Homo sapiens: one gene and its partners. The protein of the gene in region 3 interacts with the protein of the main gene of each other region in a pairwise test. Each region holds a gene or a part of one and is shown on either strand. Other genes may lie near its edges.

The links. The genes of interacting proteins can lie anywhere in the genome.
Region 1: the proteins of RTN3 (region 3) and RMDN2 interact in binary tests that used the Homo sapiens proteins (3 or more experiments, as listed by UniProt).
Region 2: the proteins of RTN3 (region 3) and UGCG interact in a two-hybrid assay, tested with the Homo sapiens proteins (one study listed by BioGRID).

What each region holds. Positions count from the first base shown.
Region 1 is NC_000002.12:37,970,280-37,977,306, forward strand, and holds part of RMDN2 (regulator of microtubule dynamics protein 2), read left to right. Parts: intron 1-3,760; coding exon 3,761-3,935; intron 3,936-4,932; coding exon 4,933-5,035; intron 5,036-7,027.
Region 2 is NC_000009.12:111,920,807-111,927,833, forward strand, and holds part of UGCG (ceramide glucosyltransferase), read left to right. Parts: intron 1-2,042; coding exon 2,043-2,145; intron 2,146-3,970; coding exon 3,971-4,072; intron 4,073-5,577; coding exon 5,578-5,690; intron 5,691-6,666; coding exon of another isoform or gene 6,667-6,828; exon of another isoform or gene 6,829-6,985; intron 6,986-7,027. UniProt on the Homo sapiens protein: Participates in the initial step of the glucosylceramide-based glycosphingolipid/GSL synthetic pathway at the cytosolic surface of the Golgi.
Region 3 is NC_000011.10:63,712,495-63,719,521, forward strand, and holds part of RTN3 (reticulon-3), read left to right. Parts: intron 1-6,207; coding exon 6,208-7,027. UniProt on the Homo sapiens protein: May be involved in membrane trafficking in the early secretory pathway. Inhibits BACE1 activity and amyloid precursor protein processing. May induce caspase-8 cascade and apoptosis.

The DNA of each region.
Region 1 (7,027 bases), on a different chromosome or scaffold from region 3:
GGAAAAAAAAATTTTTTTGGTAATGACTGAATTGATCAGATAGGTCTCATCTGTTGCGCCAGAGAAATTGTCTAATGTCAAACTGTGCTTGTAATTTCTAGTATAATCTCAATTTGGTTGTAATACATAATTTTATATTTGTTGCAATAGCTTGATTGATATTTTATTGAGGATTTTTGCATTTATGTTTATGTGTAAGATTGGCCTATAATTTTTATTTTTTGTAATATTCATGTTTGGTTTTTGTGTCAGTTATATTAGTTTTATAAAATAAACCTGAGGGGCATTCCATCTTTAGTAATTCTTTAGAAGAATTTGAATAAGCCTAATTATTTGGATATATGGCAGATTTCACAATAAAACTATTCTATGTGTGCATGGGAGAGACAGAATTAGAGCAAGAGATAGAGAGCAAGTTGCAGTAGATACATAATTCTGATGTAATTCATTTAATGGCTATAGCAACATTTGAGTTTTTGTTCTTATAAAGAATAACATAAAGATAATAGCTTTATACCTTTATAAAAGCTGTATATTATTTGTTACCATAAAGCTCCATCTTTTAAATTACATAATTTGGTGGTTTTTATTTGCAGAGTTGCCCATTTTTAAATTGAATTATTTGTCTTTTTATTGTCGAATTGTTAAGAGTTTTATATATATTTTGTATACAAGTCTCTTATCAGATATATGATTCATAACATATTTTCTTCTATTCTGTGGGTTTTTTCACTTTTTTAATGGTATCTTTTGAAGCACCTAAGTTTTTCATTTTGATAAAGTCTAATTTATTCATTTTTTTCTTTTGTCACTTGTGCTTATGATGTCATGTCTAAGAAACCATTGCTTAATCCAAGATCACAAATATTTGCTCCTATGTTTTCTTATGAGAAAGAAAACATATACATATAAAATGTTGTCAAACATTTTATAGTTCTAGCTCTTACACTTAGGTTTGATACATTTTGAGTTAATTTTTATATATGATAGGAAGTGAGAGTTCCTTTTTTGCATTTGCTTATCCATTTGTTCTAGCACTATTTGTTGAAGAGTATTGTTTCCTCCGCTAAACTGTCTTGGCACTCTTATCAAAATAAACTGATCATAATTTTAAGAAATTATTTCTGGACGCTTAATTTTGAATAGATGATCCATAATGTCTATTTCATATGTCTTACCCCAAGGACTAAAATATATTCGTCTGTATTTTGTACTAGATTTTTAAAATATATAACATTTTCTTAAACTATCCAGTTATGTTTTTTAAAAATATAAGGTAGAGTTTCAATTTCATCTTTTTCCATAGAGATAACAATTTTTCCCATCTGAATGCCTGAATTTCCTACTGATCTTACATGCCAACTCTCCCATGTACCACATTTTCATATGCATGTGGGTCTGTTTCTAGGCTCTGTTCTATCATTCACTCATCTATTGCTGTACCAATACCACACTGTCTTTAATTATTATAGCTTCATAGTAGGTCCTAAAATCTGGTGGGGTAAGTCTTCTCTCCTTGCTCCCTTTAAGAGTGCTTTGGCTGTCCTGGGCTCTTTGCTTTTTCATATAACTTTTAGAATCATCTTATTTAATTCTACAAAAATTCCTATTAGGCTTATAAAGTTTGAATTGCATTGAATCTATAGATTAACCTGGAAAGAATTCACATATTTATGATATTGGGTCTTCTAAACCATGAACGTGATATATTTCTCCATGAATTTAGGTCATTTTAGAAACATCTTTTAATATGCTTTTATAATTTTCTCCATTGAATTTTCACATATCTTTTGTTAGATTTATTCCTAGCCATTTGATATTCTCTGAGGTCACTGCAAATTGAATATTTTATTTAATTATGTTTGTAGTTTTTTGCTGATATGTAGAAATTAAACTGACTTTCATATGTTAATATTATATTCAGCCAATTTGCTATACTCTCCTATTAATCAAAATTTGTAGAATTTTTATTTTTATGTAAATAATCATAACATCTGCAATAATAAGAAGATTACATTTGAACAAAGATATGAAATATGCAAAGAAATAAACTATATGAATATCTGGAGAAGAACATACCAGGCAGAAGAAAGAAAAAATACAAAGGGTTTAAAGCAGGAACATGACTGATATGTTCAAGGAATATCAAGGAAGTTAGAGTTTCTGGAATGCTGTGAGCAAGCAGGAAAGTGATAGAAGATAAGACCAGAGGTATTGGCCAGATTATGTTAGGCCTTGTAGACCCCTGAAAGGACTTAGGTTTTCACTCTGACTTGGACATCTGATGGAGGGTTTTGAGCAAAGGAGTGACGTGATCTGAGTTATTCTTGCTACTCTGTTGAGAATAGAATATAAGGGTCAAGGACTAAAGCAAAGAGGTGTGATAAGGGGTCATTGCAGTAATCCAGATGAGATGATGGAGGCTTAGACCAAGGTGGTAGTGGGGAGAGGTGGGGAGAAGTGGCTAGATTCTGGATGTATTTTGACGATAGAACCAGCAGGATTTGCTAACAGACTGGGTATTGCTTAAGAGAAAGAAAAAAGCATCAAGGATGATTCCAAGTTTTTTGGTTTGAGCAATTGGAAGAGTAGAGTTTCCGTTAGTAAAGAATGTTATTGAAGAAGTGGGAGATCAGTTCATACAGTATCTTCTTTGTAAGGCATATGAAAGAAATTTAAGAACTTGCTTTGTTAGTTTTTTTGTTTGTTTCTATCTAACGGGAGCTGCAAGTTGTGAAGCTGATTGCATTGCATGCTAGAAAATGAAGAACATTTGTGTCCTTTGTAGCAAAGGTATAGCTATCTAAAATTTGTGTGTTTTTTATATTGACTTCATTCACATTTGGCCTTTGTCTTTTTTCACTATTTCTAATTTATTCTCTTATATGTTATATATCCTTGTATACCTCCTTAAAACCTTTTTAGAACAGGCAGAGTCTGAATTAATAAAAATAAGTTGTTTGTATTGTTTGCTGGCAAAAATGAAATGTAGGCAATAGTATTAATTTTTAAAAACCACGTTAAAGTTTAAACTTAGATCATCTTGAACTATAAATATGTGTTTTTGTGAGTTTACACACACAGTTTTGAGTGCCTGCTGAGTTCCTACAACTGTATCATCCATTCAGCAAATTCAGTGAATAGTGCTGTTCTAGGCACTTGATACATCAGTTAATGAACCTACCATCAGGGAGCTTGCATTCTCCTGGGGAGGATACTGACAAACAGCACATGTAGTAGATTAGTAAATTATACAGTATGTTAGAAGGTAATACATGCTATGGGAAAAGAAAAAAGCATTATGAGGGAGGTTAGAGATGAAGGGAATGTGGGGATTGAGGTATTAGAGTGGTCTGGATGGGCCACATTGAGAAAATGAAATTGGAGCAGAGACTTGAAGGAGGTGAGGGCGTGAGTTATGTGGCTGTCTAAGGAAACGGCGTTTCATTAAAGGGAACAGCAAGTGGAGGTTCCGAGGTAGGCACGTGATTAGAATATTGAAGGAGCAGCTAGGTGACCTGTGTGTATTTGAATAAGAAGAGTAGTAGGAAATGAGATCAAAGAGGTAACGAGATCGTGGGCAAATTGCGCAGGGACTTGTAGACTTCTGTTAGGACTGGAGCTTTTTCTGAGTGAAAGCACGTGCCACTGCAGAGTTTCAAGCATAAGAGGGGCATGATTTGACTTGCATTTTAAAAGGAATGCTCTGGCTATTATACTTAACTTTCAAAGGAGTTGATGATTATTTCTGCGATTTTAGGTATATTACAGCTAATACTGACACAGAAGAACAGAGTTTTCCAGTCCCTAAGGCATTTAACACACGTGTAGAGGAATTAAATTTAGATGTCCTTCTTCAGAAGGTAGATCATTTACGTATGAGTGAGTCTGGCAAGTCGGAGAGTTTTGAACTACTTCGTGACCACAAAGAAAAGGTAAGAGACATAACAATAGCACTTCGTATAGTTCCATTTTTTAATTTAATCTGCCATCTGTTTCAGTTATAACTATAATAATTGTGTCATGGTTCCCACATTTTGATGATTGATGTAAAATTTCTCTATAAAATGACTAAAATTTTTTAAAATTTATTTTTTATTTAAGATGCATAAAATTTTAAAAAAGTAAATGTAAAAGTTTATTAGACTCTAAGGTCATAAAAATGAGAACCAGAGCTATAATTACGCAGATTTACTTTTATTTGATTTTTTTTTTTTACTAATTTATATATTTAACAAATATTTTGAGACAGATATGGGTATTCAAAGCTATTTCTACCAATGGTCATTTGTTGATTTTGCAGTGTTTAGTGTTGGGTCTGAATAAGAAAAGCCTGTCCAGAGCTCTTACCACCACCACTAAAAAAAATAAAATAAAATAAAATAAAATTAAAAATTAAAAGTTTGCAGTGTCCCATGGAGAAATAAATCTCTATTTGTCTGAGGATTTAGCAACTCTAAACACATTGTCTAAAACTTGATAGCTCTCCAGGATTATATTTAGGTAATTTGAGTAAAAAAAGTGACTGCTCTTTTGAGTATATGCATTTTCAATTTACAGATATTAACTGAGATGCTCATTATATTGATAATAGATAACTTGGAAAGGAAAAGAAGAAAAGGATGCCACAGCTCAGGAAGAATTTCTAGATTTTGGTGCCTATCAAATCTCTTCTCTGCATAGATGGAGCTAGTGTCTGGATAATATTAATTGGTTTTAAGATCCAAATGTAACACTACATTAGGTCATATTTCTTAGCCATGAGTATTTGGATTAAAAATGTTTCACACGAAATATGCATATACATAGATTCAATAATCTATAAATACCAGTTTACCTGCCTAAGTTTTTAAAAAGTTGCAGTAGAAAACAAGAATAGAATAGACAAGTTACCAAGTTAATTTAACAGGCAACTCCATCTTTTCTTTTCAGTTTAGAGATGAAATAGAGTTTATGTGGCGATTTGCTCGTGCTTATGGAGACATGTATGAACTATCTACAAACACACAAGAAAAGAAACATTATGCTAATATTGGTAAGCATTTTGTAAAGATTATTCTCAAGTAGCAATTAAGATCTATAGTAAATCATGCAGCCGTAAAAAAGGATGAGTTCATGTCCTTTGCAGGGACATGGATGAAGCTGGAAACCATCATTCTCAGCAAACTAACACAAGAACAGAAAACCAAACACTGCATGTTCTCACTCATAAGTGGGAGTTGAACAATGAGAATACATGGACACAGGGAGGGGAACATCACACAACAGGGCCTGTCTTGGGGTGGGAGGCTAGGGGAGGGATAGCATTAGGAGAAATACCTAATGTAGATGTCGGGTTGATGGGTGCAGAAAACCACCGTGGCACGTGTATACCTATGACCTGCATGTTTTGCACATGTATGCAAGAACTTAAAGTGTAATAAAAAAAAAGATCTATAGTAAATCACTAGTGAATGTTAACTAAAGCTAAATTATCTTAGCTAAAACCAGTATGTTTAATCTATTTTAATATATTATGGTACAAAAAAATGTACACTCTCAGAACAGAAAGGCATTTTAGGGCTAAAGTATATGTTCTTCAGAAATATTTGAATATATTAGAATAGGTAACTGAAAAAAACTTAAATTTCATCTTTTAACTTTATAAAACTTAGACAAGAAATGTAGTGGCAGTGTTTGAGAAACAATAACAGGCAGAGGACAAGTGTCTTCAGCAGTTGTCAACCACAGTTAAAGTAACACATCTTACTTCCTGTAATGTAGAACTCTAGGGACTACGAAGAATAAACTCGCAGACTTTAATGTTTTTTCCAAATGTATCTTGATGAAACAAGATTAACCTTGTTAAAAACTCTGTTTGATAATTGTCTAAGCTGAATGATGATTACATGTTGGTTCATTATTCTGACATCTATACTTTTCTACAAGTTTTTGAAATTTTTCATCACAACAAGAACAACTAAATAGATAGAATATCAAACTGTTATTTTTATACCTCACCTTGACTCTTACTGGATGTCAAAATGTGTCCTTGCAAAAGCCCCTACCTGCCATCTCTCTGAATGTCAGCATAGTACTTTGACATCAAAATCTTTTGAATTCTTCATTTATTCCGAAGGCTTCTCATTTCCAGGCTTTTCTTCTAGAAAAGATAGCAAGAGGAAGACACAGCAAGAAAGATTTCTTCCCAGTCTAGTTCTCTGTAATTTTTATTTCCAAGTAGAAAGTTTTACCAAACTCCTTGTAATTATATTTTTCCACTTGGAGATTCATTTGCTGAATGACCTCTGTGCTTTCGTTTCCCCCAGTGGGAGGAGGATGAGAGGGCTTCCCCCTCTTGTTTGCATATTCATCATCAGCTTTGTGGAGTTTTTCTGTAGCATTCCAGTTTGCAGACCATATACAAAACAGAATTCTAGAGAAGAGATGTATTAATTTCAACATAAATAAAAACTTAACCAAGGAGAACAAGGGGATTTATTTTCATATCTACTGAGAAAATCCAAGTATATCTATGTAAAGTGTTCCAACATTCATCAATATTAAATACATTTTTTTCTTTTTTTTTTTAAATTTTTTTAGTATTTATTGATCATTCTTGGGTGTTTCTCGGAGAGGGGGATTTGGCAGGGTCACAGGACAATAGTGGAGGGAAGGTCAGCAGATAAACATGTGAACAAAGGTCTCTGGTTTTCCTAGGCAGAGGGCCCTGCCGCCTTCTGCAGTGTTTGTGTCCCTGGGTACTTCAGATTAGGGAGTGGTGATGACTCTGAACGAGCATGCTGCCTTCAAGCATCTGTTTAACAAAGCACATCTTGCACCGCCCTTAATCCATTTAACCCTTAGTGGACACAGCATATGTTTCAGAGAGCACAGGGTTGGGGGTAAGGTTATAGATTAACAGCATCCCAAGGCAGAAGAATTTTTTAGTACAGAACAAAATGGAGTCTCCTATGTCTACTTCTTTCTACACACAGTAACAATCTGATCTCTCTTTCTTTTCCCCACATTTCCCCCTTTTCTATTC
Region 2 (7,027 bases), on a different chromosome or scaffold from region 3:
GTCGTTCTCTTGAGTTAGTTAGCTTTGTTATGTTTTCATGGACATAATTAACCTCCCTTCTGTGCTTAAAAATGTTCGACCAGTTTTATGTTGTCGTCGTTTTGTTTTTTTTTTGAGATGGAGTCTCGCTCTGTCGCCCAGGCTGGAGTGCAGTGGCGTGATCTGGGCTCACTTCAGTCTCCGCCTCCTGGGTTCAAGTGATTCTCCTGCCTCAGCCTCCCAAGTAGCTGGGATTATAGGCGCGTGCCACTACACTTGGCTAATTTTTCGTATTTTTAGGAGAAACAGGGTTTCACCATGTTTCCCAGGCTGGTCTCAAAAACTTGACCTGAAGTGATCCACCAGCCTTGGCTTCCTGAGGTGCTGGGATTACAGGCATGAGCCACCGTGCCTGGCTGTTCAACCAGTTTTAGAAAAGATTTGGTAGGAAATTTCTTCATTGAGTCAACATGAATTTATTACCACTTCTGGGGAAAAAAATCACTACTTAGAATACATATCCTACAAATAATAGAGTAGTATTTTTGTATGTTAAGGACAAATACTTAAAAAATTTAGTTGTTGACTGAGCATGGTGGCTCACGCCTGTAATCCCAGCACTTTGGGAGGCAGAGGCAAGCAGATCCCAAGGTCACGAGTTTGAGACCAGCCCGGCCAATGAAACTCCGTCTCTACTAAAAATACAAAAATTAGCCAGACATGGTGGCGGGCATCTGTAGTCCCAGCTACTCCTGTTTGGGAGGCTGAGGCAGGCGAATCGATTGAACCTGGGAGGCGGAGGTTGCAGTGAGCTGAGATCATGCCACTGCACTCCAACCTGGGTGACAGTGAGACTCTGTCTCAAAAAAAAAAAAAAAGTTGGGTTGTTAATGGAAATTTAGGGGTTCAGTTCAGGATTTTATAAATCTGGCTGCATGTCAGATCACCCCAGAGATTCTGACTCAAAAGTCTAAAATAGGGTCCAATTCTCTTTTTAAAATAAATGCCCCAGGGTGATTTTTTTTTTTTTTTTTTTTTTTTTTGAGGCAGGGTCTCACTCTGTTTCCCAGGCTGAAATGTAGTGGCGCAGTCTTCGGCTCACTGCAGCCTCAACCTCCTGGGCTCAAGCAATCCTCCCACCTCAGCCTCCCAAGTAGCTGGGACCACAGGCATGCCTCACCATGCCCAGCTAATTTTAAAAATTTTTTGTAGAGACAGGGCCTCGCCTTTTTGCCCAGGCTCCTCTCGAGCACCTAGGCTCTAGCAGTCTTCCCACCTTGACCTCCCAAAGTGCTGGGATTACAGGCATGAGCCACCGTGCCCAGCCCCAGGGTAATTTTGTCACAGCTGGGCAAGTGTTAAGAAATGCCTTTCTTAATTTACTGTTAAAAATCTAAACATAGCACTGGGCAAAATAAAGTTGTAGGTATTTTCATAGTTACAAGGCTAAGCATGCATTTCAAGATCGTAAATGTCCATTCAAATCAAATTCTGTTTTGTTTCAAAAAGTTATGAAACAAAAAAGGGTAATCTTACTTTGTCCTTTTCATGTGATGAATTTGGAAGGGCCCTTTAAATTTATTATAATGGGATTTTATATGAAATTTGTTGCACCTTCATGAAATAATATTAAGTATAGAGACAAAGCTTCTAGAGAGAGGTTGTGTTTATTTTGCTTCCTTTTGATGTCACTTTTTACTCTGCTAGGCACCCTGTGAGCAGTTAGTAAATCTTCAGTAGTGATGGCCATGGACAAGCTTGAGATCCAGTTAATGGAGATTAACTAGGAGATTCCTATCTGGGAATGGCAAGACTGCAGTTGTGGGCACTGCCAGTCTCTTCCTTATTTATTCTGCTTGCAGATAGGCTCCTAATTAGAAGCTTCACTCCATTAAAGCAACACTTGTTATCATAAGTGTTTGCATCCATTGTGAATGCTCTCTTTTAAAACTTTGCATAATACAGTTGCTTGTTTTTTCCTGTGCTTTTTGTTCAATCAATACATGCTAGTAAGTGCTTATTTTTTTAAAGAATTTAATTTACATACAATGCTTTTTGACTAGTATGAAGTGCTCCTTTGTGTACAAGATCATGATGATCCAGCCATTGATGTATGTAAGAAGCTTCTTGGAAAATATCCAAATGTTGATGCTAGATTGTTTATAGGTAAGTAACAAATTCTGTAGTAACCATTTTCCATTGATAGTATTAAGTATCAGTAATCTCTGCATTGAACTGAAGATTAAGGTGTTAGCCATGTTTGTTTTAAACATGTTTGTTGGAGTACTGAGAGGTGTTTACGTCCTTTTGAGAAAAGTTATAAAAACAAAGGTTTTTTTTTTTCATATCTGAGATGAACAAAATCACACACAAAATAATATTTTTCCCATTAATCAGACATGAGGGTCTGTTATTTTTTGTTTCTTCAATATTTTAAATGTGTGGCCTTTTCTGTATCTTACTGACTATAATTGGAGTGAATGATAGAATTCACTTTTATTACATTACAAGAAGGGTATTTTTCCAAAAGCCTACAGGCTTATTTGAAAGACTTGTAGAGGTGTGTTTGCCATTAGTGTTTTTTTTTTTTTAACATAGAGCTGATGTGGTCTCTCTAAAAAACCAGTAAGTCGTATAAAATGATATCAGATCTTTGCTATTTGAAGATCGGGCAATGATTTAAATTTTTTATTAGCTTAAAATGCAAATTTGAAAATTAATATAAGTGTAGCATGCCTACGAATTAATCAGGACCATTACAAATCTATCAGCTCATGGTCAGAGATGCTCATTCTTCACATGTGCTATCTTAAATTATTTACTGTCATATATTTATGGGGTTTTTTTGGTTTTTTTTTTCTTTGATACGAATTTTTTGCTCTTATCACCCGGGCTGGAGTGCAATGGCACAATTTCAGCTCAGTGCAACCCCTTCCACCTGGGTTCAAGCAATTCTCCTGCTTCAGCCTCCTGAGCAGCTGGGATCACAGGCGTGCATCACCACGCCCAGCTAATTTTTTTGTATTTTTAGCAGAGACAGGGTTTCACCACGTCAGGCTGGTCTCGAACTGCTGACCTCAGGTGATCCACCTGCCTCGGCCTCCCAAAGTGCTGGGATTATAGCCTCCCCAGTAGCTGGGATTACAGTCAGGCACCACCACGCTCAGCTAATTTTTTTGTATTTTTAATAGAGATGGGGTTTCGCCATGTCATACTGGTCTCGAAGTCCTGACCTCAGGTGATCCACCCCCCTCGACCTCCCAAAGTGCTGGGATTACAGGCGTGAGCCCATGGTGCCTGGCCATGTGTGTTTACATTTAATAAACCTTTATTAAATATAATCTTACTGTATTTATGAATTTATACTGTTTTAATTATAGCTTCAAAATAACGCCTGTAGCTTTTTCCCTTAGGATTATTTTTTAAATTGACAAATAAAATTTGTATATATTTTTGGTGTACAGCACGATGTTTTGAAATATATATATATGTACACATTGTGGAATAGCTAAATTAAGTTAATTAACATATGCATTACCACACATATTTATTCATGGTGGGAAATCTCTCTTAGCAGTTTTCAAGTAAACAACATGTTGTTATATACTTTCTCATGTACTTATACTTTATTTGTGGTGAGAAATCTACTCTTAGTCATTTTCAAGTATACCATACATTGTTGTTACCTATAGTTGCCATGTTGTACAATTGCCATTAAATATTGACTCATACTTAACTACTAAGGCAAGGACTTAAGAATTAGAAAAAGTGAAACAGTGAATTTTCAAAGATAAATGATACAGTTTTCCTTTTGAGAATGGACAGTTTTTTCCTAAATATATTATTATGAATAATAGAGAATGTTAAATAATATGAAAGTATGTTTAATTATTAAATATGCAAGTATTCTCATTTCTATCATGTATCTTTATACTATAAAATATTTTTAATGTTGCATAAATCTTTTACTACTGTACCTTTACATTTTTAGGTGGCAAAAAAGTTGGCATTAATCCTAAAATTAATAATTTAATGCCAGGATATGAAGTTGCAAAGTATGATCTTATATGGATTTGTGATAGTGGAATAAGAGGTGAGGTTTTTTTCTTATTTATTTTATAAAACTATTAATTTGAAGATAAAATGCTAAAAGCAATCTCAGATACATTCATGAGTTCTTTTTATTTGCCTAAAAGAGTAATTTATTTCATCATCATTTCATGGTAATATGTCCAGTTATGCTTACTAAGATTTTGATTTTTTTAATCCTAAACTAGAATGTTACATGTATTAAAATGTTTTCATTTTGAAGAGAAAATTTCAACCATTAAATTAAAAATGGTTGTGGTTCATTATATAATCTGCAAGCTTTCCCATGGGTGTAACTTTTCCCTTGTTTGCCTGACACTTATCTTTAATGTGTTTCGGCTTGCGTAATACACCGTCTCACAAAGGGACAGAAATTAATAGGTGCATATTTTACTAAAACACATACACTTATCGGACTATACACATGACTTTTTACTTAAATGATTTTAGCAAGAAGCCTTTCATATACTGAAATTATAACTTGCATTTTCGAACACTCATAATAGTTTCAGTGTTCTATAATATTTTCTTATATTCTAATTGCCTTAAGCTTCTCAACCCCAATACTGTTCACATTTTAGGCTTTGTTGTGGGAGCTGTCTTGTAGGATGTTTAGCAGCATGCCTGGTCTCTACCATGAGATGCCAGTAGTACCCCCTTCTCAGTAGTAAAAGCAAAAATATCTTCAGATGTTGCCGGATGTCCCCTGTGGGGCAGAATTGCCCCCAGTTGAGAAGCACTGACCTAGAATGAGTATTTAAGGTCCAAATACAACTTTTCTTTATACGGTAGATTTAGTTCTTAAAGACTTGGAGGAAATGAAAAATAAGGTCATGTAAAAATGATATGAGATGTTTGCTAAAGATTGGGCAATAATTTAAATTTTTTATTAGCTTAAAATGCAAATTAGAAAATGAACATAAATGTTGCACTCCTATGAGTTAATCAAGACCATTACAGATCTATCAGCTGGTCAGAGATGATGTTCATTCTTCATATTTGCTATCTTAAATTATTTACTATCATATGTTTTTCAGTGTACAGATCTCTGTTCAATATAATCACGTTCCATTCCTGTGTGGAAATCTGATACTCACAGAGAAAATAGTCTCATTTCCTATGGTTGGAGAGTAGAGAAGCCAGCACGAGAACTGAGGTCCTTTAGCCTCTGCTCCTGAGCCTTTTCCACTAGGACAGATTGTCCTTATTCCAAATTAGAAGTTCCAACAGGGGGTAACTTTTTCAAAGTATATTCTGCCTCTGGTACATAGTAGGTATATACTGGGCTAAAAAATGTATAAATTAGCTTTCGAGAATTAGGCCCTTTTGAAATTTTGTATTCTCCTCAGAAAGGTGGTTGAGATTCATTTTATTAGATCCATATGTTTAAAATAATGTATTTTATTAAGAATGTAATAACAATTCACAAAATATATTTTATATTAATGGGCATTCTACTAAAAACAAATTTTCTTTTCTCCCCCTCTCTGCCTTTTTTTTAAATTGTAGTAATTCCAGATACGCTTACTGACATGGTGAATCAAATGACAGAAAAAGTAGGCTTGGTTCACGGGCTGCCTTACGTAGCAGACAGACAGGGCTTTGCTGCCACCTTAGAGCAGGTGAGTATGGTGGTTATAAATCATGTTCATAGTATCAGACCCCTCATTTCCCAGAAGCTTGAGACTATGGGAGCTGGAATTAGGTATCTCAAGTTAACTGTATTAAGTCCATTTGGGAACCTGCTGTGTTCTAGAAGCCCTGAGTTGAGAGCAGCTGTTTTCATTAGTGAGGAAATTCTTGGGACCCTGACTGTACCCTGGCAGTGAACAGCTGTGCGCAGGAAATGCCTGCGGTCTTATTGCCAGCTGAACACAGTCTAACCTCTTGCCTTGTAGTATTCACTTCCTGTTCTAGAGTTCAGTTCTTTATATTGTTCTTTCAAACATTCGATCTGAAAAGAACCGCTGGCCCCCTCCCCCCAGCCTTTTTTTTTTTTTTTTTTTTTTTTTTTTTGCGACAGAGCCTTGCTCTGTTGCCCAGGCTGGAGTGCAGTGGCACGATCTCGGCTCACTGCAACCTCCACTTCCCAGGTTCAAACGATTCTTCTGCCTCAGCCTCCCAAGTAGCTGGGATTTCAGGTGTGCTACCACACCTGGCTAACTTTTGTATTTTTAGTAGAAATGGGGTTTCACCGTGTTGGCCAGGCCGGCCTCAAACTCCTGACCTCAAGTGATCTGCCTGCCTCAGCCTCCCAAAGTGCTGGGATTACGGGCATGAGCCACTGCGCCCAGCCCTCAAAAGAACCTTTTTAAAATACCACAAAGTATTTCAAATATACACAAAAGAAAATGTATTCATACAAGTCCTTATAAAACCTATTTGATGTCCTTTTAAAACATATTTCTAATAATTACCTGAGAAACTTATGTTTTCATTTTATTTTTTCTCCAACTTAGAAATAGTAACATCCATAGGAAACTATAAATAATGGAAAAGTATAAGATGCAAAAAAACAAAAACCAACAACCTAGAACCCTAACAATTACAGGAAGTTTATGGGGTTTTTTTGTTTTTTTTGTTTTGTTTTTTTTTTAGATGGAGTCTCGCTCTGTCGCCCAGGCTGGAGTGCAGTGGCGCGATCTCGGCTCACTGCAAGCTCCGCCTCCCGGGTTCACGCCATTCTCCTGCCTCAGCCTCCTGAGTAGCTGGGACTACAGGTGCCCGCCACCATGCCTGGCTAATTTTTTGTATTTTTGATAGAGACAGGTTTTCACCGTGTTAGCCAGGATGGTCTCGATCTCCTGACCTCGTGATCCACCCTCCTCTGCCTCCCAAAGTGCTGGGATTACAGGCGTGAGCCACCACGCCCGGCAGGAAGTTTCTGGTTTTAAAAATAAACATTGTATCATTTGGACACTTTGGAGTCTTTATTTCCCCCACCACCCCCTTCTGGGCC
Region 3 (7,027 bases):
TTTTTTTTTGAGATGGAGTCTCACATTGTTGCCTGGGCTAGAGTGCAGTGGTGTGATCTTGGCTCACCGCAATTTCCACCTCCTGGGTTCAAGCGATTCTCCTGCCTCAGTCTCCCGAGTAGCTGGGATTATAGGCATGCGCCACCACACTCGGCTAATTTTTTTGTATTTTTAGTAGAGATGGGGTTCTCCATGTTGATCCGGCTGGTCTTGAACTCCTGACCTCGTGATCAGGACCAGCTCGGCCCCCAAAGTGCTGGGATTACAGGCGTGAGCCACCGTGCCTGGCCGACTTCGAATTTTTTAATAAGAATTTTTTGGCCGGGCGCAATGGCTCACACTTGTAATCCCAGCACTTGGAGAGGCCGAGGCAGGCGAATCACCTGAGGTTGGGAGTTCCAGACCAGCCTAACCAACGTGGAGAAACTCCGTCTCTACTAAAAATACAAAATTAGCTAGGCCTGGTGGCGCATGCCTGTAATCCCAGCTACTCCGGAGGCTGAGGCAGGAGAATCGCTTGAACCCAGGAGGCAGAGGTTGCGGTGAGCCAAGGTCACACCATTGCACTCCAGCCTGGGCAAAAAGAGTGAAATTCCATCTCTCAAAAATATAAAAGAATTTTTTATTTGGGTCTAAAAATTTAGAATTTAGAATATGACTACCAACTTAATTTCTTAGTCTTTGTTTCAGATAATATATCTCAGTGGAGTATTTAGAGTTTAAGAAGATGAGTAATCATGGAGCTGAGTACTTGATAAGTTTGAGAACATGTTCATGATCATTGTGGGGATATGACATTTTTTACCTCTTACCATATATCGATTCTCACCCACCCCCCATTTTTTGAAACAAGGTCTTGCTTTGTCACCCAGGGTGGAGTGCATGGCTCACTGCAGCCTCGACCTCCTGGGCTCAAGCAGTCCTCCCACTTCAGCCTCCCAAGTAGTCAGGACCACAGGTGTATGCCACCATGACTGGCTAATTGTTTAATTTTTTTGTAGAGATGGGGTCGCACTGTGTTGCCCAGGCTGGTCTCGAACTCCTGGGCTCAAGCTGTCTCCCTGCCTTGGCTTCTCAAAGTGCTAGGATTACAGGCATGAGCCACCACACTCAGCTGATTCCCTTTTTAGTAAATCTACTAGATCTATGACTTTATTTGTTAATAATTAGAGTAGCACCATGTTTTTAAGTGATTAGAACTCTTGAAAATGAATATCCACACTAAATTCCATTATAGCAAAGAACTAATTTAGAAAATGTTCATAATGAGAGTTTTGATGGCGATTTGTTTTGAGTAGTGTTGAAAGGCTCTTAGAGTGCATGTGAAGGGATGAATCTTTTGAGAAAAGAAAGATAGTAGACATTTTCTGAGACATAAAATAATCCAGATTTATTCCACCAGACAGCTTTACAGTGTATAGTATTTTAAGAGCTAACTGCCTTCAGATTCACTGGACTTTTCTGTCCTTTTGCCAGGTACTGACTTGGGCAACAGCAGTGACTACAAGTGCCATACTGACCAATTGGAAGAGTCTTTGCTTATCGGAGCTGTTCTAAAAGGCTTATTAGTTTTTGGTCTTCATTCTATTTAATGTTTTCATGCCTTTATAAACTTTTTACTTCCAGCCCAATTTTTCCCATTGTCTTGGTACAGGTCAGCTGTGTCCAAGTTTGTTAGGGTTTCAGCTAGCCAAAAATGGTATTTTCATTTGCTGAAATTCTAAACAAAATAATTAAAGTTAAAGCACAGATGATGATGCTACCTTATTTTTCTACATGTGGGAAAGCTTGATTGATAGTAATGATTAGCGCCTGCATCTCACAATCACTGAGAAATGAATGCAGCACTGAGCTCTGTTTGCCCTCTAAGCTTGTCCCCAGAAAAAACAAGATATACCCTAAATAGTAAGTTATAATATTTTTATTAGGGAACATTATTAGAGTTTTTTTTTAATATATCTCGTAGCCATGTCATATTAATCTTTTTTCTTTTTTCCTTTTTTTCATTTTTCTCTTTTCTCTTCTCTTCTCTTCTCTTTTCTCTTTCTCACTCTGTCACCCAAGCTGGAGTGCAGTGGCATGACCATGGCTCACTGCAGCCTTGACCTCCCAGACTCAAGCAATCCTCCCACTCCAGCCTCCCAAGTGACTGGGACTACAGGCACGTGCCACCATGCACGGCTAATTTTTCTATTTTTTGTAGGGGCAGGATCTCAGCATGTTGCCCAGGCTGATCTTGACCTCTTGGACTCAAGCAATTTTCCCTCCTGTGCCTCCCAAAGTTCTAAGATACAGGCATGAGCCACCACACCCAGCCTAGAGAATCCTTAATGTTTGAAGTCTGTCAGGCTATCATGGTGCTCAGCAGAGGATGTGTTAGTATTCTGAGAATAGGACTTCTAACTTTAGTTTTACCTGAGATTATTCTACACCTAACTTGAAACTTTTGGAGTATTAAAGGTTCAAAGAAGTTAAGAGAAAAGCAAAGCTTGATAAACTGACCAGTTTGTGTCCTGCTAAAGCATAGACAGTTTTACCATGCTCTTCCCAGTGACATGAATATTCTTTGGTTAGCATTCAATTTGGTTGCTTTCTTTTTTGTTTAATCAGGCACTGTCACCACTGTATTATTGTCATCATTTTGCTTATTGATTTTGCTTATTGTCTGCCTTCCCCTCTGTGTTGTAAGCTCCATAAAGGCAAGAAATTTTTTCTGTTTTATTCACTGCTTTAAGCCCAGTTTCTAAAACAGTGTCTGACACGTGGTAGGCACTCAATAAATACCTGTTGAATTATTACTAATTCATTTTGTAGACTTTCATCTGTAAGATGACAGATCTGAATCATCTGAAATCTCCATCTCCATAAAACATATAAGCTGGCTGGGTGCAGTGGCTCATGCCTGTAATCCTAGTACTTTGTGAGGCTGAGGCGAGCAGATTGCTTGAGCTCAGGAGTTCGAGACCAGCCTGCGCAACGTGGTGAAACCAGCTCTCTACTAAAAATACAAAAAATTAGCCAGGTGCGGTGGTGCACGCCTGTAATCCCAGCTACTTCGGAGGCTGAGTCAGGAAAATCGCTTCAATCTGGGGGGCGGAGGTTGCAGTGAGCCGAGATTGCACCACTGCACTCCAGCCTGGGCAACAGAACTAGACTCTGTCTAAAAAAAACACACAAAAAACACACAAAAAAACATATAAGCTGAACCTCCCCTGTGGGGTGGAGTCAGTTTGACTCACCTCAGAGTTGTTTGAAGAGAGAGGTTCCCAAACAGTTTTACCATAACCTTAGTTCACTGAATGTTTTGTGGTAGAAACACTGACTAGTAAGTTCAGTAACAATGCATGGCTCAGATTGTGGAATATTTCTGATTTAAATGTAATCTGTAGTACTTCACACTTCAGATTTTTGAACCTTTTAACCTACAATACTGGGCTTCATTTCTGTTATGCCCTAATCTAGTCATGCTGAATATCCATACTGTATAATGGTAGATGCAAACCATGTTTACTAAATTAGAACTACATATGAATTACAGTTTACTTCAAGTGTTTTGTTTTGGTAATATAGCTTTGCCACCAAGCTTTTACAGTTTTCCTTGAATGTACAAAGACTTTTTATTCTAATAACCAGATTACAGTTATACTATTTCTAAAGCTCAGCTCTTATTACATCAAGTTTCAGTGATGTGTTGAAGTAGGGGAACTTTATATGGCATTTCAAAACATTTTCATAATACTGGAATTTTATTTATTGTAAAATATTTTTGTCTTTAATAAAATAATTTTGAATGAAGTCATAATTTTGCTTTTATCTGGTATTTGGATGTTTACATGAAAAAGGGAACATAAGCTGAATAAAGGTAATCCCAAAAGAACTTCTCTGTCACATTTTCCCAGTTACTCATTCATGCTCAAGGCATTGCTGTCCTGAGCCTACTTAGGTCTCAGCTGACCAAGCTGAATCTTTGATTCACTTATTTGGGGCTATTTATTTAAGACCCACTTTGTCCCAGCTCCAAAGATACAACAGTATGCAAGAAAGACAGCGCCCAGGGTGGGCGTGGTGGCTCATGCCTATAATCCCAGCACTTCAGGAGGCCGAGGTGGGCAGGTTGCTTGAGCCCAGTAGTTTGAGACCAACCTGGCAATGTAGTGAGGCACCAGGTCTGTAGAAAGTTTAAAAATCAGGCCAGGCGCGGTGGCTCATGCGTGTATTCCCAGCTCTTTGGGAGGCCGAGGCAGGCGGATCACGGGGTCAGGAGATCGAGACCATTCTGGCTAACACGGTGAAACCCCGTCTCTACTAAAAATACAAAAATAAAATTAGCCAGGCGTGGCGGCGGGTGCCTGTAGTCCCAACTGCTTGGGAGACTGAGGCAGGAGAATGGCGCGAACCCGGGAGGCGGAGCTTGCAGTGAGCAGAGATCGCGCCACTACACTCCAGCCTGGGCGACAGAGCAAGACTCCGTCTCAAAAAAAAAACAAAAAAAAAAAAAAAAGAAAAGAAAGTTTAAAAATTAGCCAGGTGTGGTGGCATGTGCCTGTGGTCCCAGCTACTTGGGAGGCTGAGGTGGGAGGATAGCTTGAGGCCAGGAGGTCAAGGCTGCAGTGAGCCACAATTGTACCACTGGCACTCCAGCCTGGAGGACAGAGGGAGACCCTCTCTCAAATACAAACAAACAAATAAATGAAGTAAGAAAGCACCAGCCCTTGGGATATTTGTTTTGATCCTTTTCCCCAGTAAAAATTTGTTAGAGTGGGAAGTTAGAAAACAGTGTGGTAGATTGATGGCTACTATGGTATTAACTGATAAGACTTAACGTATTACTTTGAGAAGGATATTTTCTATTTTAAAAGTAATTCTGGAGTTAACTCTGTCTTTTTTTTTTTTTTTTTTTTTTTTTTTGAGACAGTTTCACTCTTGTTGCCCAGGCTGGGGTGCGATGGCGTGACCTCAGCTCACTGCCATCAATGTCTGCCTCCTGGGTTCAAAGGATTCTCCTGCCTCAGCCTCCCGAGTAGCTGGAATTACAGGTGCCTGCCACCACGCCCGGCTAATTTTTTTGTATCTTTAGTAGAGATGAGGTTTCACCATTTTGGTCAGGCTGGTCTCGAACTCCTGACCTCAGGTGAGCCACTGCACCCAGCCAAGTTAACTCTGTCTTAACCAAAGAAATCAATTTGCACAGTACAATATTGATTTAAATGACAAGTTAGTACAAGAGATTTTGGAGGGGCCAGGCGTAGCGGCTCACACCTGTAATCCCAGCACTTTGGGAGGCCAAGGCGGGTGGATCACTTGAGGTCAGGAGTTAAGAGACCAGCCTGGCCAACATGGTGAAACCCCATCTCTTCTAAAAATACAAAAATTAGCTGGGCTTGATGGTGCCTGCCTGTAATCCCAGCTACTTGAGAGGCTGAGGCAGGAGAATGGCTTGAACCTGGGAGGTGGAGGTTGCAGTGAGCTGAGATTGCGCCATTGCACTTCAGCCTGGGCAACAAGAAAAAGACTCCGTATCAAAAAAAAAAAAAAAAGATTTTGGAGGGGGTCCACCTTTTTCAGTACCCTTTAGTTTAGAACATCACAGCTATTTATTTGTACATGGGACAGATTCTCCCTGTGGATAGAATAGAATAATTCTAGTCTCATTTTTCAGATTCAGGAAGGGCCCATTGCATCTCCTAAAAATCAAAAAAGTCTGGCCACTAGTTTTTTTCCTTTTCAGATTGTGAGACTAACAGATTTATAGAGGCAGTCTGTGCTCTGAATTGTTCAGCTTACAGATTGAAGTCTATCAACCCTTTATAGTATCAGGTTATTTGTTTTGTATAAATTATTTTGCTTTTGTTGATTAGCTCTATCAAAGAATAAAAAACCTCCCAAGATTTCTCAATCTTACCGCCCTTCTTTATGCTTTCTCTGTACAATGGAAAAGTAGACCAAAAGTATTTGTCATGAAAATTTTTTATCATTTGCAGTTTGTGGCATGATATGGCTTTTCTGTTTCACTGTTGGCAGTTTTATGCATGTCCTGTAGGATAACTTGATCGTTTTGTTACATATTTATGTGTGTATATATACATCCTGTGTGTGTATATATATATTTATGTAATTTAAAAAATAAAAAGCATGCTGCTTGGCTTGGCTAGCTAATGTGTAATTGTACCTGGTAAACAATTTTTTTCTTTGAAATTCTGATCATAGAGGGATTGAGCTCTCTTTGCTCTGATGAGCCATCTTCAGAAATTATGACTTCTTCCTTTCTTTCATCTTCTGAAATACATAACACTGGCCTTACAATACTACATGGAGAAAAAAGCCATGTGTTAGGGAGCCAGCCTATTTTAGCCAAAGAAGGAAAAGACCACTTGGATCTTCTAGATATGAAAAAGATGGAAAAGCCTCAGGGGACCAGCAACAACGTATCAGACTCTTCAGTTTCTCTTGCAGCAGGAGTTCATTGTGACCGTCCTTCTATTCCAGCCAGTTTCCCAGAGCATCCTGCTTTTCTCTCAAAGAAAATTGGTCAAGTGGAAGAGCAAATAGATAAAGAGACCAAGAACCCAAATGGGGTATCAAGTAGGGAGGCTAAAACTGCATTGGATGCTGATGACAGATTCACTTTGCTGACAGCCCAGAAACCACCTACTGAGTACTCTAAGGTAGAAGGCATTTATACATATTCTTTGTCTCCATCCAAAGTTTCAGGAGATGATGTTATTGAAAAGGATTCCCCTGAATCACCATTTGAAGTAATTATTGACAAAGCAGCATTTGACAAAGAATTTAAAGACTCATATAAGGAGAGCACAGATGATTTTGGTAGCTGGTCTGTGCACACTGATAAAGAATCATCCGAAGACATTTCAGAGACTAATGACAAGCTTTTTCCACTGAGAAATAAAGAGGCAGGACGTTACCCAATGTCTGCATTGCTCAGTAGGCAGTTTTCACACACAAATGCAGCACTGGAAGAGGTGTCCAGATGCGTGAATGATATGCATAACTTTACTAACGAAATACT